Homo sapiens: one gene and its partner. Changing the gene in region 1 together with any one later gene gives a genetic interaction. Each region holds a gene or a part of one and is shown on either strand. Other genes may lie near its edges.

Region 1 (5,763 bases):
CTGATTGCTCAACTTTTCCTTCTCTCTTTGCTCTCCCCTGATTATGATAAAATCATGATCAACTCTATCCTTTATTTTCAGAAACTCTTAAACCACATTATTTCAGTATTTCCTACTTTTTCTCCTTTTCTTTCTCATTTTCTTGAAAGAATAGCATGTACCCATTTGTAGGGTTTTTTGTTTGTTTGTTTGTTTTTTCCCTATTTTCTCCCTTTGCGTTTATCCTTCAACTCACTGAGATTTAGCTTCTACCATTTTTGGAAACTAGGTGTGCTAGTCATCTAGGACCGCAGAGTGGCTGAGTACAGTGGACTGTATCATGTCATTTGAAACTTTCTTTTCTGTTGTCATATCACTTTTCCATATGACAACTGATTTGTGGATCACTTTCTTAGAACTCTGTTCTTAACTCTCTACTGTCTACTTCCAAGAGGCCTTTAGGGGTGGAGTGCATGAATGGGCATTCATGCAGCTTTTGAAATGGAGTACAAAATGTTGTTTATATGTATGTATGTCTGTTTTCTTAGGAAGAGGGTCCATGGGCTTATGTATATTTGACTTAGACAATATTATGTTCATCCATGGTTTTAACTATGATGAAGTGATAACATGAAATTCTGGATTTCCAGCCCAGACCTCTGATAGGAAATCCAAAACCATATGCCCCACTTGATAGCCCATAATTAAAGTTTTCCAAAACAGAATTATCATTCCTCTTCCTGATGCCCTCTATACATATAGACTCCTCCACTCTTCAACATTTCCTAAGCCAGAAATTTGAGTGTCCTGCTCCTTTCTCCTTCTTTAAATCCTATTCCACATTGATTCTGTCTTCCAAGTATACTGATCTCCTAAATCCATCCTTTTATGTGTTTCCCTGGCTTAATTCTATCCTCTCTGTCTTTCAGTTGGTTTATTGAAATAACTTCCCAACTGGTTTGCCTGTGTCCTGTTTGACCCCACCTTGACAGTTCACCACATGTAAATCTGAGTAATTTTTCTGTAACATGTTAGTATTTTTTCAGTGATTCTGATTATCAGAATGAAAAGTGCCTAATTTGAGACATGTTGTTTGGTCTCTGCTTACATTTTTAGGTCTTATTTCATCAGTTTCCAAATGCACATTCTGTAGGGGTTTTAAAAGTAATTAAGTCTGTTATTTTGGCTTTCCCCCTCATAGTTTACCTCTTGTAATAACCTTGTCTAGGTCCTTTAAGTCTCAGCTCAAGCTCAGCTTCCTTCTTTATATCTAGTGCCCTCCCACCCCTTTAGATGCTCCTTCCCTGTCTTCCTACAGTTATAGCTGCATAATTATTGCAACTATTTTTCTTTCTTCCCAACCATACTGTAAGCTCATCATTGAGGGCAAGTGCAATCATATCAAAATGTTTTTCTTTTTTTAATCTCTAGAGCCTCATAAAATATCTAATATATGGTGGGTGATCTATAAATATTTGCTTAGTGAATGAATAACATAATATTTAAAATTTGTTTTCTCAATTTGACCTTTATACATTTCAAATAAAACTTAAAGGGAATCTTTTTCCTGGTACAAAATACAATGAGTTGTTTTTTTTTTTTTTTTTTTTTTGAGACAGAGTCTTGCTCTGTTGCCAGGCTGGAATGCAATGGTGCGATCTCTGCTCACTGCAACCTCTGCCTCCCGGGTTGAAGTGATTCTCCTGCCTCAGCCTCCTTAGTAGCTGGGACTACAGGTGCGCACCACCACGCCCAACTAATTTCTGTATTTTTAGTAGAGACGGGGTTTCACCATGTTGGCCAGGATGGTCTCAATCTCTTGACCTCGTGATCCGCCTGCCTCGGCCTCCCAAAGTGCTGGGATTACAGGTGTGAGCCACCGCGCCCAGCCTAAAATGCAATGAGTTTTGAAGAACTGTAAACTTCATTAACATCCAGTGCCTAGCCCAGATCCTAGTAGATAGGAGAAACTCAAATATTTGTGTATAAATGATTTATAGGTAACAATGAACTAATGAGCTGTTACATTTTTAGTGTTGCTCATTCAACCTGGGGAAGAAAACACATCAAATAAAAATAGCAAATCTGGTAATGTGCTTTGCTTCATTCCCTTAACAAGCATAATTTCATGCTGATTATTTTGATAAGATCTCAGGGAGCTTTACTTGATGTGTTTCCAGGATTTGTTTCAAGATTTAGAGCTCTTTTTAGCAGTTTTTGTAGTGCTGGCTTGGTAGTGGCGTGTTCTGAGCATTTGTTTGCCTAAAAAGACTGTACCATCCCTTCATTTATGAAGCTTAGTTTTGCTGGATACTAAATTCTTGGCTGATAATTGTTTTGTTTAAGGAGGCTGAAGATAGGGCTCCAATCCCTTCTAGCTTGTAGAGTTTCTGCTGAGAAATCTGCTGTTAATGTGATAGGTTTTCCTTTATAAGGTTACCTGGTGCTTCTGCCTCACAGCTCATAAGATTCCTTCCTTCATATTAACTTTAGATAACCTGATGACAGTGTGCCTAGGCGATGATCTTTTTGTGATGAATTTCCCAGGTGTTCTTTGAATGTCTTGTATTTGATTGTCTAGGTCTCTAGCAAGGCTGGGAGAGTTTTCTTAGATTATTCCCCCAAATATGTTTTCCAAACGTTTAGATTTCTCTTCTTCCTCAGGAACGCTGACTATTCTTAGGTTTGGTAATTTAACATAATCCCAGACCTCTTGGGGGCTTTGTTCATATTTTCTTATTCTTTTTTATTTGCCTTTGTTGGATTGGGTTAATTAGAAAACCTTGTCTTCGAGCTCTGAAGATCTGCTTGTTCAATTTTATTGCTGAGACTTTCCAGAGGATTTTGCATTTCTATAAATGTGTCCATTGTTTCCTGAAGTTTCGTTTCTTATTTATGTTGTCTATGTCACTGAAGATTTCTCCCTTCATTTATTGTTTATTTAAATTTCCATAAATTGGGCTTTGCCTTTCTCTGGTGCTTCCTTGATTAGCTTAATAACTGGCCTTCTGAATTCTTTTTCAGGTAAATCAGGGATTTCTTCTTGGTTTGGATCCATTGTTGGTGAGCTACTGTGATTTTTTGGGGGGGGTGTTAAAGAACCATGTTTTGTCATATTACCAGTGTTAGGTTTCTGGTTCTTCTCATTTGGGTAGGGTCTGTCAGAGAGAAGGTCTAGGACTCAAGGCTGTTGTTCAGATTATTTTGTCCCACGGGGTGTTCCCTTGATGATATTCTCCCCCTTTTCCTAGGGATATGGCTTCCTGAGAGCCAAGCTATAGTGATTGTTGTCTCTCTTCTGGATCTAGCCACTCAGCAGGTCTACCAGGCTTTGGGCTGGTACTGGGGGTTGTCTACACAGAGACCTGTGATGTGAACCGTCTGTGGGTCTCTCAGTCATGGATACCAGCACAGTATTTGGGGTATATCCTGGGCCCTGCAGGAGCAATCTGCTTCCTTCAGAAGGTCTGTGGGTTCTCTTGGCTTTCCTGATTTATTCCTGCCGTCATTCTGGAGCAAGAGTTTACAATGCAAGACTCCACACGGTGCTCTGTCAGAGTGGGAGCTGCAGTCTAGTCCTGCCTCCCGTCTGCCATGATCCCCCCCCGACCCTTTTTTTTTTCTACTCAGGTCTCAGGGAGCTTTAAAGTTTTCAGTTACTGTAGTTTGTAACAATGTGACCTCATTACCGAATCCTAATATTAGATCTCTTCTTAGAGGTTGAGTGTATTATCTTGTTAGGATTTGCTAGGTTTGTGAGTTAGAATAAAAATGAAGTCTTGCTTTCTACTTTTTAAAAAAGAAAGGCACAGAGGATTCAGGACATTACTGTGATGTATATAAAAATGGTGAAAGTAGTGGTCCCAAGTACCCCATTAATTTGTAAGACCATGCCAGAGGCACAGTATTAATACATCATGTTTCTTGTTCTGATGCTACATTTTGAAAGCACTAACTTGTGTGGTAAAAGGTAGGTTCTAGGTTCTGAGGCAGAGTATGTTTAGTTTACTATCAGAGCCTTTCTTTAAAGACTTGACTAAATTTAGTTATCTTGAATACATTTTTGCAGTGTCTCAGTGTGGGTAGAAAATAAAAACCCCAATGCTTTGGCATCCATTGTATACCTTACTTCCTCTCTATGGATGACATGTACAGTGTACATACATACTGTGTACTGTGTACAAACATACTGTGTACTGTGTACAATTCTTGGGAGAATTGAGAAAAAGTCAAGTCACTTTCAATAAAAGAGTTGTATTCTCTTACAGACCCCCATTGAGAAAGGCTGGTAGGAGCCAGGCTATGCACTGAATTCAGGCCATGGATTTCTGTCACCCAGGCTGACTGCAGTGGCATGATCATGGCTTACTGCAGCCTTGACCTTCCGGGCTCAAGCAATTCTCCCACCTCAGCCTCCTGAGTAGCTGGGACTACAGGTGCATGCCACTTGCCTGGCTTTTTAAAATTTTTTTGTAGAGTTGGGGGTCTCACTGTGTTGCCCAGGCTGGTCTCAAACTCCTGGCCTCAAGCAGTCCACCTGGCTTGGCCCCAAAGTGCTGGGATTACAGGTGTGAACCACTGTGCCTGGCCCCCAGTCCATGGATTTCTTAATAGATGAATTTCTTCCTTGGCCATTATTGGCTTGAGACAAAATTAAGCGGTGATTTAAGAATAAAAGACATTGGCTAGGCATGGTGGCTCACACCTGTAATCCCAGCACTTTAGGAGGCCGAGGCGGGCGGATCACGAGGTCAGGAGTTTGAAGCCAGGCTGACCAACATGGGGAAGCCCCATCTCTGCTAAAAATACCAAAATTAGCCGGGCGTGGTGGTGCGTACCTGTAATCCCAGCTACTCGGGAGGCTGAGGCAGGAGAATTGCTTGAATCTGGGAGGTGGAGGTTGCAGTGAGCCGAGATCACGCCACTGCACTCCAGCCTTGTCAACAAAGTGAGACTCCGTCTCAAAAGAAAAAAAAAAAAGAATAAAAGACATCATCTCTAAGACAGTGGTTCTCAACTACGATCCTTGACCTACTGCATCATCTGCAAAGTTGTTGGAAATGTAAATTTTCAAACCTCATCTCAGTGCCATCTGATCTGCTGAATTGGAATATTGGGGTGAAGAGAGTAAGGTGGTAGGGCTCAGCCAGTTTGTTTTTCAAGAAGCCCTGCAGGTAGTTTCAATATATAATAAAGTTTGAGAATCTCTGCTCTGTGCTGTCCACTGACTCTTGCTTTCATTTTTTTCTTCCAAATGCTCCAGGAAGTATGTTATCTAGTGTTAGAAAAATCCAGATGTGATTCCCTGAATCATCTTATTTCCATGCTCTCCTGAATTCACTCCCAACAGGTAGTTGAAATCTGAAGTCAGCTAACTTAGAAGTTTATTTGTAAGTTGGATCATTTGACTTCTCTGTTTAAAATTCTCCAATGTGATGTAGAGAGTCCAACTGTTTTTTCCCCAGCTGTCCTCATACCAGTTCTTTACTGATTTGCAGTGCAATCATGTTTGTTTTTAATACCTCATTTTTTTGTTTTTGATTTGTAATAAATATTTTGCTCAAAGAATGTGACCTCTATCAGGGATCAGTAAACAGATTTGGTCACCCTGAGCCCCAGAATGGGTTTTACACTTCTAAAGTGTCATTTTTAAAAAAAGGAATGAATGTATGGCAGAGACTGCGCTTGCCAAACCTAATTTTTTTTTTTTTTTGAGACGGACTCTCACTCTGTCACCCTAGCTGGAGTGCAGTGGGGCCATCTTGGCTCACTGCTACCTCTGCC
Region 2 (4,532 bases), on another chromosome or scaffold:
CACATCTGGTGTCAGCAGTGTTGTGTGAGAATAAAGAGAAACAGTGTGTTTGAGACTTGCTGTTCTAAAAATATGAGCCCCATGAAAGTAAGACCTATGTGTTTGATTTAGTTTCATATTCCCAGGGCCTGGCAGAGGTGACTGATCTGAAAAGTCACTCAGTAAATATCTAAGTGAATGAATGAATGAATGAATGAATGAGGGAATGAAAGAAGTCAAAATAACAGAAGCCTAGTGATTCTATGCAGAAAGATTTCAAATCTTTCTGTAGTTACTGGTCTATGCAGACATTATGTTTGATAGGAAATTATTCTAGTTCATCAGAAAGCTTTAATATTTATTTTGGTCAAATTTGAACTGTTCCCTGTCATGGAACTGAGTCTTTGATATGATTTTGATAGGGAGGTCTTAGAGATTCTGTTAAATCTTTCCCTTTAGGAAGGATGAGAGATTTTACCTGCCATCCTTAACTCTTCTAAATTTTAGATTTATTGACTTATAATGTTATTTATTTGGCTATTTTAGATTGGTATTTATATTTTACCCTATAATACAGAGAATACTTGTCATAGAAGTTAAATCCGTTCTTGCTTTTAGATTTTTGGGCAAAGATAGGTTTTAATTTTTTTTTTTTAAAGCCAGACACTTTAAAAAGTAGCATTGTGTTCATTAGAGATGGCGTATAGTCTGCTTTGCTTTTTCAAATAGTTTGCACTGAATAATGAACAATAGTAGAAAACTGTTCCCTGCAGGGTAATTTCAGCAGACAGGACATCTGTTTACTATCTTGCAGGTTGGGATTCCTTGAAGATCTGCCCAACTTGAGACTGTGTAAACTTCAGAAATCTGGGAAACAGTTTGAGAGACAACTGACCTAATCAGAGAACAATACTTACTGTTTAGGGCACATAGAGTAGTTTAAGCATTTACACCCAGAACATGACAAAGTTTCAGAAGGTGTAGAAGAATTTGCTAAGTTGGGTTTCTACTGGCAAGTTTGCTTCTGTCCCTTGAGGCATAATTCATGGAAGAATCCTCATTTACCCACTAATTTATAGGGTAAACAAATCTAGTCAGCATCGGTTCTTAACAGTCTTAGATAACGGGGTCAGATGCTAAGGTGTAAGTCTTACTGTGCTGCAGAAAACATGAATGTTTCAAGATGGGTTGCTGGTATTACCTTCCCTCTTGTTTATATGCTGTAGAGATTGTTCCAACTAGGGCTTGAATTCCTCTTATTAGGGTGATATTTATGCTTTTATAAACAACATGTTCACTTTTGGGTCTGTATTTCTCAGTGCCTTCACTTTTCAGCAACCCACGAAGTCTTAAAACAGAGGAAAGGAAATTGGGGTTTGACCAGCAGTGTATTGTAGTCACCTGAGGAGTTACAACAAAACAAAAACAAAGGAAAGCTAGGCCATACAACTTCATTAGAAATTAGAACTAAATAGGATGTTAGAGTAAGTTGGAGAACTAAAAACAGACACCACCTACCAAACCCAGTATAGGAACCCAGCCGGTATCAGTTAGCTGAATTTCAGGAGTGTGCTCACGCATTAGTATACTTTAAAGCTCCCCAGATGGCTCTAATGTGTATCCAGAATGAGGACCCCTCTTCATTTATCTAAAAAAAGCTCTTTAGGTGATTTTGCTCAGCTGGGAATGAGTAAATAGGGCTCCTGAGTGTATATGTATCACAAATGTGGGGTCATTTGTGATACATATAAGCAAAATATAACAGGAGAGTGTTTTTGTTTTGAAGAATGGTTAAGCTTTCCATGTGTCTTTTTCAGCCTTGCTGTTATCAACATATTTGGTGCACTCAGTTTGGTATCACTCATTTATTGTGAAGTAATTAGAAGTGCTTTGGACTCAGAAGTCAGATCTCACTTCCCTGGCTAAATTCCCTGTCAGCTTATCTTTGTTTCCTTATGTAAAATGGGAAAATAATATAACTGACTTCACAGGGTGGTTGTAAGGATTAAATGAGTCCTTGCACGTAAGACGGTGGAGTGCTTGACATATCATAAGTGATAAGTGTTTGCCATTCATTCCTTCAGCAAAATATATTTTGAGTATCTTTTATGTGCCAGTATCTGTGTTAGGTGTTGAAGATGTGGTGAGTAAATCATCCTTTCATTTTTATGGGAACATTCACGAGGGGAAACAATGAGCACAACATGGATTCTGTCTCTATTAAAAGATACTTCGAATCTATGAAACTTTGAAATATATATACATGGCAAATTCTTGGTTATCTATGTAGAATAGCAGAAGTATGTATGTCATTTAGTTATATTTAATCAGGAATTTCCTTTCCTTTTAACATTTAAATCAGTGTCTGCAACCTTTCTGGCACCAGGGACTGGTTTCGTGAAAGACAGTTTTTCCACGTGGGGGGTTGCGGGGATGTGAGAGGATGGTTTCTGGATGACACTGTTCCACTTCAGATTGTCAGGCATTAGATTCTTCAAAGGAGCATGCAACCTAGCTCCCTTGTATGTGCAGTTCACAGTAAAGGTTTGTGCTCCTATGAGAATCAGTGCCACTGGTCACCTGACAGGAGACAGAGCTTAGGCAGTTTACCTCCTGCTGTGCAGCCAGGTTGCTATCAGGCCACAGAGCAGTTCCCGAGCAGTACCTGTCCGTGGCCTTGGGGTTGGGAACCCCTGCTCCAAATGAATCCTACTGTAAGGCATTTCCATGACATTACTTCTTGAACTAAAGAACTGAGGTTTTAGTGTGTATGTAGGAAATAGGACGATCATAAAATGTCACAATGAAGAATGAGCTAGCTTAGTTTTGATAATAGTGATTTTTTCCTGAGTACTTTATCAGATTATATTAAAATGACAAGATCATAAATATTAAAGTTGGAAATTATTTTAGTGATTGAGTCTTTCCTGAATGCTTTCTTTTTTGGACAGCCTTCAGTACTAGAGAGAATTTATCCTTAGAGTTGAAATCTTCTTTCCAGAAACTGTCACCTGTGGTTCTTAGGTTTTGCCTTCAAAGTAAGACTAATCCTCTAAGCAGCCAAAGAACTCTTCAGTATTTGGAAAGTGCTTTTTTTGAGTGTCCCTTGCCTAGAGAGAGATTTGCATTAATTTTACTGGTTCTCATCACAGGATTTTAAGCTTTCTCTCTTGTAATTACCCTTTTCTGTGGATTCTTACTCATACTGATTGTTTTTTGTGCTTTTCTCATTTCTTAGTTTGGTACTGTTACTGGTAAATTTTCTCTTGGGTCATTGTAAAGAACTGAGGATAACAGTTCAGTGATGTCGAAAGAGCGAGATAATTATTTCTTTTACTTGGAGCGCTGTATTCTATTGATACTACATAAAATTGCATTGGCTGTTTGGCAAGCATGTCAAGCCTGGTGTGCTGTTTGGTTACATTATCCTTACTGATCCCTTTAGAATTCACTTTTGTTAGAGTTAAGACAGTTTTCAATATAGTTTGAACTGTAATAACTTGTTTTAAAATATATTAATTTTTTTATTGCTATTTTCTTCATAACTGGAAATGAGGTTATTTTCATCTGGCTTCTTTATGAAACTGTGCTGGTCCTAGTCACCAGTATTCCCTTTTGCATATGTAGGAATCAGCTGTTTAGGAATCACTTCTAGAATTTGTCTGAAGAACTATGTTAAGCTCATATATCTTCTAATATCTCTTGTTTACTTTGATTTCAGTAGTGGTTTAGCAATCTCATTAGTAGGGGTAAGTATAAAGGAATCTAGGTAACCTAGGTGAATTGGTAGTTGTGTTTGTAATAACTCTTTATCAGTTTAGTTTATCCCGTCTTGATCACCTGTATTTGTTCTATTTTTTAAGTGTAGAAATAATTTTTCTTGGCAGAGAGGTATGTTGAATAAGCATTAAATAGTTATTGACAAATATCAACAATATTGGTCATTTATTGAGCACTTACTATGTGGCAGACTCTGTGCAGAGAACTCTATACTGTGTCATTTTTAGTAGTGTCAGTAATGCTATGAAATAGTGCTATTTTGCAAATTAGAATCTAAGGCTTGAGAAGATTAAATAGCTTTCTCAAGGTCACAGCTAGTAAATGCTGGAGCTGGAACTCATACCCATACTTGTATGACTCATCAAGTCCATTTTTGTGCCTTTCAAGAAGTGGAGAGGTCTTTCATACAGGAATGTGTAGGTTGTGCACTTTCATTTCGTAGTATTGAAGGTCTGCCAATCTTATTAGTTGGTGTTACTCCATTTTGAGCTCTTTTCCCTGCTGACTGCTTGCTCTCCTTTGGAGTTCTGTATCTTACTGGTGTAGTCTTTTTGGGTCTATTCATAACACAGTTTTTACTGCATATCTGTTGTCTATTACTACCTGGTTATTTTAACTATCAATTTAGTTACTAATATGAAAATCATCTCCCAGGTTTAAAAACTAGGTTTAAAAACCTACTTTTAAACCTAAAACTAGGTTTAAACTAGGTTTAAATCTTGGCTCTACTACTTCCTAGATGTGTGACCTTTAGCCATTTACTTAATTTCTCT

Evidence for each region. A genetic interaction does not mean that the proteins touch.
Region 2: changes in ASCC3 (region 1) and EIF3H together harm fitness less than expected from each alone (positive genetic interaction), as found in Homo sapiens cells (one large-scale study listed by BioGRID).

What each region holds. Positions count from the first base shown.
Region 1 is NC_000006.12:100,870,293-100,876,055, reverse strand, and holds part of ASCC3 (activating signal cointegrator 1 complex subunit 3), read left to right. Parts: intron 1-5,763. UniProt on the Homo sapiens protein: ATPase involved both in DNA repair and rescue of stalled ribosomes. 3'-5' DNA helicase involved in repair of alkylated DNA: promotes DNA unwinding to generate single-stranded substrate needed for ALKBH3, enabling ALKBH3 to process alkylated N3-methylcytosine (3mC) within double-stranded regions.
Region 2 is NC_000008.11:116,728,324-116,732,855, reverse strand, and holds part of EIF3H (eukaryotic translation initiation factor 3 subunit H), read left to right. Parts: intron 1-4,532.